2 linked regions of the Homo sapiens genome follow. The protein of the gene in region 2 interacts with the protein of the main gene of each other region in a pairwise test. Each region holds a gene or a part of one and is shown on either strand. Other genes may lie near its edges.

Region 1 (3,341 bases), about 75 Mb from region 2:
ACCTCGTGATCCACCCGCCTTGGCTTCCCAAAGTGCTGGGATTAGAGGCATGAGCCACTGTGCCCAGCCTGGGTAACTTCTTTTTTTTTCCCCCACAAGATGGAGTCTTCCTCTGTCACCTAGGCTGGAGTGCAATGGTGTGATCTTGGCTCACTGCAACCTCTGCCTCCCAGGTTTAAGCGATTCTCCTTCCTCGGCCTCCTGAGTAGCTGGGATTATAGGCATGCGCCACCACTACCGGCTAATTTTGTATTTTTAGTAGAGATGGGATTTTTCCTGTTGGTCAGGCTGGTCTCGAACTCCCGACCTCGGGTGATCCACCCGCCTCGACCTCCCAAAGTGCTGGGATTACAGGCATGAGCCATCGTGCCTGGCATTCTTTTTCTTTTTAATTAAAAACAATTTTTTAAAAATAGAGACTGGGTCTCCCTATGTTGCTCAGGCTGGTCTTCAGTTCCTAGACTCAAGGGATCCTCCTGCCTGGGCCTTCCAAAGTGCTGGGATTACAGGCATGAGCCACTGCACCCAGCCTTTTTTTTTTTTTTTTGACAAGGTCTTGCTCTGTCACCCAAGCTGGAGGGAGTGCAGTGACACGATCATAGCTCACTGCAGTCTTGATATCCTGGGCTCAAGCAATCATCTCACCTCAGCTTCCCAAAGTGCTGGGATCATGGGCGTGAGCCCCTGTGCCCAGATAGTTATTTTAAATAAATTCTTATTTTATGCTTTTTAAAAGGCTTTATTGAGACAGAATTTGCATACCATACAATTCACCCATTTAAAATGTGCAACTCGCCAGTCACGGTGGCTCACGCCTGTAATCCCAGCACTTTGGGAGACTGAGGTGGGTGGATCACTTAAGGTGAGGAGTTCAGGACCAGCCTGGCTAACATGGTAAAACCCTGTCTTTACTAAAAACACAAAAACTAGCCGGGGATGGTGGTGCACACGTGTAATCACAGCTACTCAGGAGGCTGAGGCAGGAGAATCGCTTGAACCCGGGAGGCAGAGGTTGTAGTGAGCCGAGATTGCGCCACTGTACTCCGGCCTGGGTGACAGAGCGAGACTCCATCTCAAAAAAAAAAAAAATTCTAAATCATTAAGCAGAGGAGTCCTGTATTTCTACAGGTCAAAATTCTATTCTCTCATTCCCCAATCTCTATAATTCTCTGTGTTGGCCATTTTTAATGTTTAAGATATGCCCATGCACAGACTTTTTATGCAAATGTTATACTCGAACCATTCCATGTTCTTTCAATTCTATGTTTTAGTTATTTAAATATATACTTTTATATAGGAAACATATAGATCAGATTTTTCATGGTCAAAATCTGTTTCCTGTTTTACTGAGTCTCATGGTGGCTTGACAGTGGCGTGTGTATGTGTGTGTGTTTGTGTGTGTATTGAAATCGTGACCTTGTGTTTGATTGAACTTAAGCTCAAGGAGACCTGAACACATAAATAGAAATTATTTTCCCCCTGAAAAGGTTTGCACTTGCTTTCTGCAGTTACCCATGGGGCATTACCAACCCAGGACCATTTTAACCCTCTTCAAGAATTCCAGTTTAATATGGGAGCTTCAATTCAGACTCCTACTTTGTGGGGAACCTAAGATTCCATGTTCCAAGCTAGTTTTAGCGTTTGCTGGCTTACAGCCCACTGTTTCTGTTTCAGCCTACAGTTTTCACCTGCTTTCTAAGAGCCTAGTGATGCATTAAAAAGGTATAATTTGTGAACATCTGATTGATTGCAGTGGCAAAGAGAGGGCCCTTCTGAATACCTGGCCCCTAACTCCTCTGGAGATAGAACCCTCTTCTTTTCTTTCTGAACCTATTCCCTATCAGAAACTCCCAAGAATGCCCTTGAAACCTATATGCCTCCTTTCAAATATGCCTGCCAGACTGTTTTAAAATAGTTTTACACACTTTCTTTAGGATAAAAGAATGAAAGAGTTTGAATGGATGTTATTTCTCAGAGAATTGGGGCTACTCAGAAGGAATCCTTGTCCACAACCCATGATGTTTGCAGGAGGAATGATAGGGTGAATGTGAGTGGCCTGGTCTGAGTCCCTGCTATGTCTGTCCCTCCTAATAAGTTCCTGTTTTCTCTTCCCTCTGTGTCCAGCATAATTACTTGAAAACCATGATGGGCCTCCAGCAGGCACATAGAAAATAGAACCTCATCGCCAGTACCTTAAAGGACAAGACCAGCAACTCCCACCTACTGTAGTGGAGCTGCTCAACCACCTGCCCAGAGCTGCAGCCCCCTCTACTCCAATGCTGGGACCCAGCACAGAGAACACATTTGGCCTGCATGTTGGGAGGAGCATCCTCCAAGGACAACCTTGCTCATCTCCACAGAGCACTTTGGGTTTTAATTCACTGTCTTATATGCAGGGACAGGATAAAATAACTTTCTAGTTTGGACTTTCAGTGCTCATCTGAGAACTTTGTCTTATTTCCTGTCTGAAAGGACATATTCTCTATGTATGTGTGAGGTCAGAACTGAGTCTCAAGTAGGAAGGCAGAAAAGTAGCTCAGCCAGGCTCCTCCTGGCAGGCCTTTGTCACACTGGTCAGCCCCTTTCCTGGATAGACATCCTAGGGTGGGGGTGGTGAGCTCGGTCTGAGGAGCTCTGCTTCTCACAGCTCCCTCAGACCCTAAGTTCTCTCAAGACATCTTTTCTGTGTTTCTGAGCCAGTGAAGAAGACAGGAGGAGGCCCTCCTTCATTTGGCAACCAGGGGAGGATAAGGTCTAGCCACAGAGACCAGAAAGGGATGAGGCAGAGCTGGCTCCATGTACCAGGGAATAAATGAGCAGCTTCTGGGAGACATGTCCTCTGCATGTTTCCAGAACACCACGGCCTTCCCTACGCAGCATGCACGGCCACCAGGCACCAGGGTGCCTCCCCTCCCCGCTTTCTCTCTCCGTGTAGGCTGCACTGAGCAGAAGTGAAAGTGAACGATTTACCCTGAATAGGAACTGGGATCACTGTCAAGGCTGAGCAGGGAAGAGAGAAGATATCACTCTCTATCAAGTTACCAGGCTGCAGCTTGGGCCCTTGGTGGTGGCACCAAAGGGAAAGAGTTCATTACTTTGCTCAGAGAACAAACTCAGGCCCTCTGGGGCCTTCCAGGCTGACTGATACGCCCCTGGGTTGGTAAACCAAGTCTCCACTGAGCGAAAAGTTTCAGTGCTTCCTTGGAATTGTATCTCACCCCCTCTTCTGTTCTTATGGGTCAAGGCCTTGGCCTGACACTCTGTGGGTGCTCCCCCGTCTGACACCCTCATCAGGGCCTTGAGGTTTCTGTTATTCTTCCAACAGTGGGAGAGGAGGTTCT
Region 2 (7,039 bases):
TAAGGTTTAATATAGTCAGCAAATATCATGCAATTTTTTTTTTTTGTAACTTAATACCTGCTCTTCTACTTCCTGATAGACCATTGGGCTTAAAAGGCCAACAAGCTGTCTAAGTTCTTGACTGAATTCAGTCCCAGTTTCCTGTTTACTTAGTAGACGTCTGAGTCCTGAAATGGAATAGCAAAAGGTACAACTATTATTATAATAATAAAATATGATTTTGTTATCTAATCAGTATTAATTTGAAGCTAAAAAGTCTGGCTTAAAAACAAATGAAAACAAGATTAATCATATGATTTTTCTTTTTCCTTTTCTCAGAGAATTCCAGGTTGAAATCTTTAAGATATTCCTCCCTCCTGAGAATTCTTACGTGCTCAATTGTGGTATCTGATAAAAAAAAAAAAATCTGTCTAGACAATCTCTTTAATAAAAAAAAAAAAAAAGGAGTGGGATGGAATCACTGTGGTAAATCAAAAAGTAGAGATAAATTTTTTTTATTTGAACAAAAATACTTAAATGGAGACATTTTAAAGATAAATTACTACAGACACATATTCAGTAAATGCTTGCCCTGTGGAAGCACTTATGCAGATTATTATTAGTCATTATTAGTTGAAAAAGATTATTAAATATAAACATATGGTAACATATATAATTTGGGGCAAATCAATAGGTTCCTGGGAAAACATTATAGGTGAAGTGCTACAACACTAGGATAGTACATTTTCATGCCAAAATAATACATAGTAGTAGTGAAAGGTACAAAGTAAGTACTGTTTCCAGGGTACACTGAAATGATGTATTATAATGTGTGTATTCAAAATAAATACATAAGGTAAAATTGCCTTGTAGTGTATAATTGGGGAAACCACTATATGGATCTTTTAATGCCTTATACTCTCTTCAACACCCAAGTTCTCAGCAGTATTAATAATTGTAAAATATCTTCAGGAATCTGAATAAGTTCTGCTATTGAGATATAAGTCAAAGAAAGGGAGAAGGATTCAGGTAAAATTCCTTTATAACGACTCTGTTGGACATTCACATTTCTTTAGGAATTGAATTACAGAATTGAAAAATGTCTATCTGGCACAATATCAACTAAAGAGCTCTATTACTGGTACTTTCCTTCTCTATTCCTACAATACCCTCAGTAATGACTAATTCAAGGTACATTATTACAATGTCTTCAAAATCATCAAGAATGATAAAGACCTTTCTAGTTGTTTAGGTATTAAATGCATCATATTATATTCTAACCTTTAAAAATTCCCATACAGTATAACCCTATGTTAATAAGTATATTTAATGAACTAGAATCCCATTTCCTGACCACGCTGAATAAGAAAAATAGATTATAATACATACATGGCTCTGGTCAGCAAAGAAATAAAACAAAGATAACATATAACTTTGCTTGGCAATTAAACAATATATATACTACCTTTGTGATCTTGGGCAAATTACCATGTCTCTGTTTCTATATCTATAAAATAAGGATAAGAATATCTATCCCATAGGATTGTTGTAAAGATTAAACATTTTAATGCATATAAAGTATATGGAATGTGCCTGACACACAGTAAATGCTCAATTAAATGAAAGCTATTATATGAGAATGTATATACGCTTACTCCTTTTATCCTCAAAATTTCTGACTTTTAATTCACATATGTATTTGATTTTGGAGGTAAGGCAATTTTTTTTGTTTGTTTTTGAGGAAAGGCAGTGTTAAGTAATTATTGATAGTTCAAAATACCATAAGGGCCACTGGCCTCTCAAGCACAGCTCCATTTTCTCCACTAAAGCTGGTCTTGATAAGGTCACTGATCTTTTTGGTCATTATTTTACTATACTATATGGTATATTCAACACACAAAACCTTTTTGTCAGAGAGGGAGTAAATATTTATGGCAACCTGATCAGAAAAGTATCTTCCACATGCTATCTGTAGTGACATGAAGATAGCTTGATTATATAAAGACTTTTTTTTTTCTGAATTGGTATCTGTTGTGAGTTTTATCTACATAGGTCAGTTATCAACTCTTTAAAATATAAGAATTTTGTTTTTCATAAACCATCAATAAAAATTTTCTTTTTGAGAATCCCAAGAAAAGAAAGAATGAATGTACTACCTTTGTAGCAGGTACTTTGTCTCAGTAAAATCAAAATTTCCTGATGGGATTCAGCCATCAACAGTAGGAGTTTTGTAGCAGTACTTCTTATAACTGGACTAGGAGTTGAAAAAAGCTTGAAAATAACTTCATCTAAAATTGAATACAGGGCTTTTCTTCCTATTCTGAGTAAATCACCACTAATAGAACAAAATAAAAAAAAAAGTACCATTACTAATTGATGTACAGGTATCACAACAAATCTAAAATATAAGATTCAGTAACTTGATGCCGGACTGTGTCCTGATCCAAGAATATAACCACTTTTTCAAATATATGTTGGTTCCAAGAAGATATCATATTCAGTCACTTAATATTTATTGAATTCCTACTGTGTGCAAGGTGCCATGTGTGCTAGGTACAATAGAGAATACAAAGTAGCCAAAGGCCTTCTCCTTAGAGAAGCCTGCAATCAAATCAAGGATGAAATATAAATGTGCAAAATACTAAACAATAAATAATTTAAAAGCTTCAAGGCAATGATAAAAGTGAAATCAAGACAGGTACACAGTTAATTTTTAAATGATGTACAAAGACAAAAATGCCATAGGAATTCTATCATGTGCTTAATATAGGAGAAACTTAAAATCTTTCCTTGGTATTTCCTTCATTATACTAACAACCCATCTTGTATTACTGATGTTGTGAAAAATTATCTAAAACTTAGAAATAGTCAAAAGGAAAGGGTTAGTGAGTATCCTTTTATTTACCCCCTTAAGGAGTTATGTGATTTTCTAGGCGTATGTACCTCTGTTTAATTTTCTACTCACTATTAAAATACTTTACAATTCTGTAAAAATAGAGGTTGGCTGGTAGAAAACAATGCTAAAGATTCTTATCTAAGAGCAATGTAAACAGACTCTTATTCAAAGCAATACAAATGATTTCTGTCCAGTAGAAAAGGTAATTCTAGAAGCTACATTGCTTTATAAGTCATATTTTCCTATTAGCAAATTTTAAAAATCTATCAGCAAATTTACTTCTACATTTCTTCGACAAACCAACTCCATAAATCTATTTTCCTCAAATTCTCCTTTGACCCTGTATAAATATCTTATTTGTTCCCTCATTAATGAGTTGCATAAAATTTTGAGCAGTCAAATTTTATATTTGTATAAGACTCATGTTTGAGCTTTTTGAAAATTGTACTTTAGTAGTTACTAAAATAATTTTGTTAAGAGAAAAGAGATCAGCAACATACCTTAAATGTAAAAATCTCTGAGTTGAAAGACTTTATAAAGTTATCCAATCAAAATATGTGAGAATCTTTGTGACATCTACTTCTGTGCCACTGTGTCTCTTACATGCTATTCCCTATGCCTAGGATGCTCACCCTGTCCCATCAGTCAATGTCATCACACTATTCAAAACTCAGATTAAAAAATATGCTCATCTCAGAAAGCCTTCTACAGATATCCCTATCCCAATCTTATCACATCTTTACTCCATATCCCACCAAGAGTTTGTGCTATAATGTAATACAGTAGTTTAAATGCTTTTAGATGCTCTTCAACCTCCTAATCTTAAAGACATCCTCTCTATACCACTACCATCTTATCTCTCTGCTTCTCTTCTAATCCAATTTCTGTTGCCACTATCTCACATCTCATTTCTCAAACCACTGCATCTAGTTTTCATTTTTTACTATTTCACTATACTATCCTTGATAAGTTCATCAGTATAACTTCCCAAATGTCAAGTCACATATATACCATAAGTGATTCTTTTCCTAGACTTGTTTGTATCTGATACTTTCTACTTACTCAGCTTCTGTGATACAAAGTTCTGGTCTCCCCTCTACCTTCCACCCATACTTTTCTGACCATTCTTTTTCATTTGTCTTTGTGGGCTCCACTTCCCCAGTATAACCCTAAAAGGTTATTCCCCAAGACTCCATTTTCAAGCCATTTATTTTCTCATTGTATTCACACTTCCTACTAATCTCACTTTCTGTCATGTTTTTCTCTACCATGTATAAGCTGATTTGTAAATCTGTAACTCTAGTCCCAATCTCTTCCAGAAGTTAGTTTACCTATTCACCTGATGGACATTTGAGTTTTAGCTAGTCCTTGTTTTTCACAAATAAAGCTCAATGAACATTTGTGTATAAGTCTTTATATAGATACTTACTTTTACTGCATGTTGAACTACCTATACTCAACATAACCAACATTGAATTAATCATCTGTCTCACAAAACCAACTTCTTATATATTCCACATACCACAGTCTAATCACCCAATACAGAAAACTTGGTATCATATCTGACTGCACCATTTATTTTATCTACCCCATATCAAAACATTCACCAAGTCATCATAATTTTTGTTTTAAACAGCTTTTTAAAAATATAATTGATATACAACAAACTGCATATATGTAAAGCATATAATTTCATCAGTTTGACATGTTTCACCAACATAAAACAAGAAAATGAATATATCTATCACCCCTAAAAGCTTCCTTGTATTTCATTGTAGTTCCTCCCTTGTTGCCTTCCCTATCATTCTATGCCCAGGAAACCACCGATCTGCTTTCTGAGAAAGTTCCCTTGTATTACTACTTTGCTGCAAGGCCTTTTTTTTTTTTTTTTTTTTTAATTAAAATCAGGGCTAGATAATGGATTTTGTCAAAAGCTTTTTCTGTATCTACTGATATGATGGTATGTTTTTTCCATTTTTAGCTTGTTAACATAAGTTACAATGACTGACTTCAGAATATTAAACCAGCCCTGAATGCCGGGATAAACCAGAATTATTCATGACGTATTAACTTTTTAATATATTGTTGAATTTGACTTATAAAATTTTGTTCAGAACATTTCTATCTATGTTTATGAATATACTGATGAGTAGTTTTCTTTTCTTATAATGTCTTTGTTTGGTTTTGGTATCAGGATAATGCTGACCTTATAGAATGAGTTGTAAGTGTTTCCTCCTTTTCGATTTTCTAGAAAAGTTTGCTTAAGATTATTATTTCTTCCTGAAGTGCTTAATAGAATTCACAGTGAAAAAGCCATCCAGACCTGGAGTTCTCTTTGTGGGAAGGTTTTTAGCTACAAATTCAATTTTTTTTTATAGCTATCTAGAGTATATTTGGGTTCTCTATTGCTCCTTGAGTAAATTTTGGTAGTTTGCGTCTTTCAATAAATTTGTCCATTTGATCTAAGTTGTTAAATTTATAAGCATAAAGTTGTTTATATTATTCCCTTGTGATATTTTTAGTATTTGTAGACTCTGTTACGATGTTACCTCTCTAATTCCTGAGATTGGTCATTTGTATTATGTCTTTTCCTTTCCATATTAATCTTGCTACAGGTTTCTTCTCAAAGAGCCAGTTTATGGTTTGTTTTCTCAAAAAACTTCAATCTTCCCAAAGATCCAGTTTATGGTTTATTTCTCTATCACGTTTGCTTAGAATTTTATTGATTTCTGCTCAACCTTTATCATTTTCTTTCTTCTGCTTAGAGTTTAATTCCCCCTTCTTTTCCTAGTTTCTTAAAGGGGAAAGCCGAGGTCAATGATTTGAGATTTTTCTTCTTTTCTAATATATAGGCATTAGTGATATAAATTTCCCCTAAGTATCATTCTGCTTTAATTAAGAATTTCCCCAGAAATTCTCATGTTGTTTTTATTTCCATTCATTTAAAAATAATTTCTAATTTCACTTTTGATTTCTCCTTTGTCTTGTGAGTTATTTAGATGAATGTTATTATTTCCCACATATTTGGGGACTTTTCAGAGATCTTCTTGGCATCAATTTCCAACTTAATTCCATCGAGGCCAGAGAACATACTTTGTATAACTGAAATCCTTTTACGTTGCTTTTTTCTTTTTTTTGAGACAGGGTCTTGCTCTGTTGCCTAGGCTGGAGTGTAGTGATGTGATCTCAACTCACCGTAACCTCTGCTTCCTGGGCTCAAGAGATTCTCCCACCTCAGCATCCCAAGTAGCTGGGACTAGAGGCACCTGCCACCATGCCCAGCTAATTTTTTGTACTTTTTGTAGAGATGGGGTTTTGCCATGCTGCCCAGGCTGGTCTGGATCTCCTGGACTTAAGTGATCTGCTCACCTCAGCAAAGTGCTGAGATTACAGGTGTGAGCCACCGTGCCCGGCCCCTTTTGTGTTTCTTGAGACTTTATTTATGGCTCGGAATATGCACCCTTCTTTGTAAATGTTCCATCTGCATTTGAAAAGAACATGTATTCTGCTACTGTTTGGTAGAATATTTGTAAAATGTCAATCAGGTCAGATTGGTTGATATTATTGTTCAAATCTGTGGTCATACTAATTTTTTTGTCTACTTATTCTATTAAATATCAAAAGAGGTATATTAACATCTTTTGCTTTAATTGAGGATTTCTCCTTGTAGTTCTTGTCAATTTTTGCTTGTGTATTTTAAAACTCTATTAGGTCAATAAACACATCCTTTTGATGAACTGACTTTTTTTATGATTATGAAATAACCTTCTTTAGCACTAGAAATATTCTTTGTTCTGTAACTTACTTTATCTGATACTAATACAGGTACTTCAACTTTCTGTGGTATAAGCACGGTATATCTTGTTCCACCCCATTACTTTTAACCTACTTGTGTCTTTATATCTAAGGTGCATTTCTGGTAGACAGCATATAGTAGGCTTGTACTTTTTAAATCCAATCTGTCAATCTGTCTTTTAACTTTAGTTTTTCCACATTTACATCTAAGATAGATAGGTTTAAATCTACCACTTGGTTTTGTTTCTCCTTTGTTCTTCTTTTTTTTTTACTTCCTTCTTCTGGATTGCGTATTTTTTAATGATTAATTTTTATTGCCTTTGTTGGCTTATCAGCTGTAAATTCTTTGTTTTGCTATTTTCTTCACTG

What was found. Proteins that work in one complex are often made in the same cells at the same time.
Region 1: the proteins of IQCB1 (region 2) and KIF9 interact in binary tests that used the Homo sapiens proteins (3 or more experiments, as listed by UniProt).

What each region holds. Positions count from the first base shown.
Region 1 is NC_000003.12:47,227,486-47,230,826, reverse strand, and holds the end of KIF9 (kinesin-like protein KIF9), read left to right. Parts: intron 1-2,124; coding exon 2,125-2,175; 3' UTR 2,176-2,829; downstream 2,830-3,341. UniProt on the Homo sapiens protein: Essential for normal male fertility and for progressive motility of spermatozoa.
Region 2 is NC_000003.12:121,797,061-121,804,099, forward strand, and holds part of IQCB1 (IQ calmodulin-binding motif-containing protein 1), read right to left. Parts: intron 2,315-7,039; coding exon 2,136-2,314; intron 168-2,135; coding exon 58-167; intron 1-57. UniProt on the Homo sapiens protein: Involved in ciliogenesis. The function in an early step in cilia formation depends on its association with CEP290/NPHP6.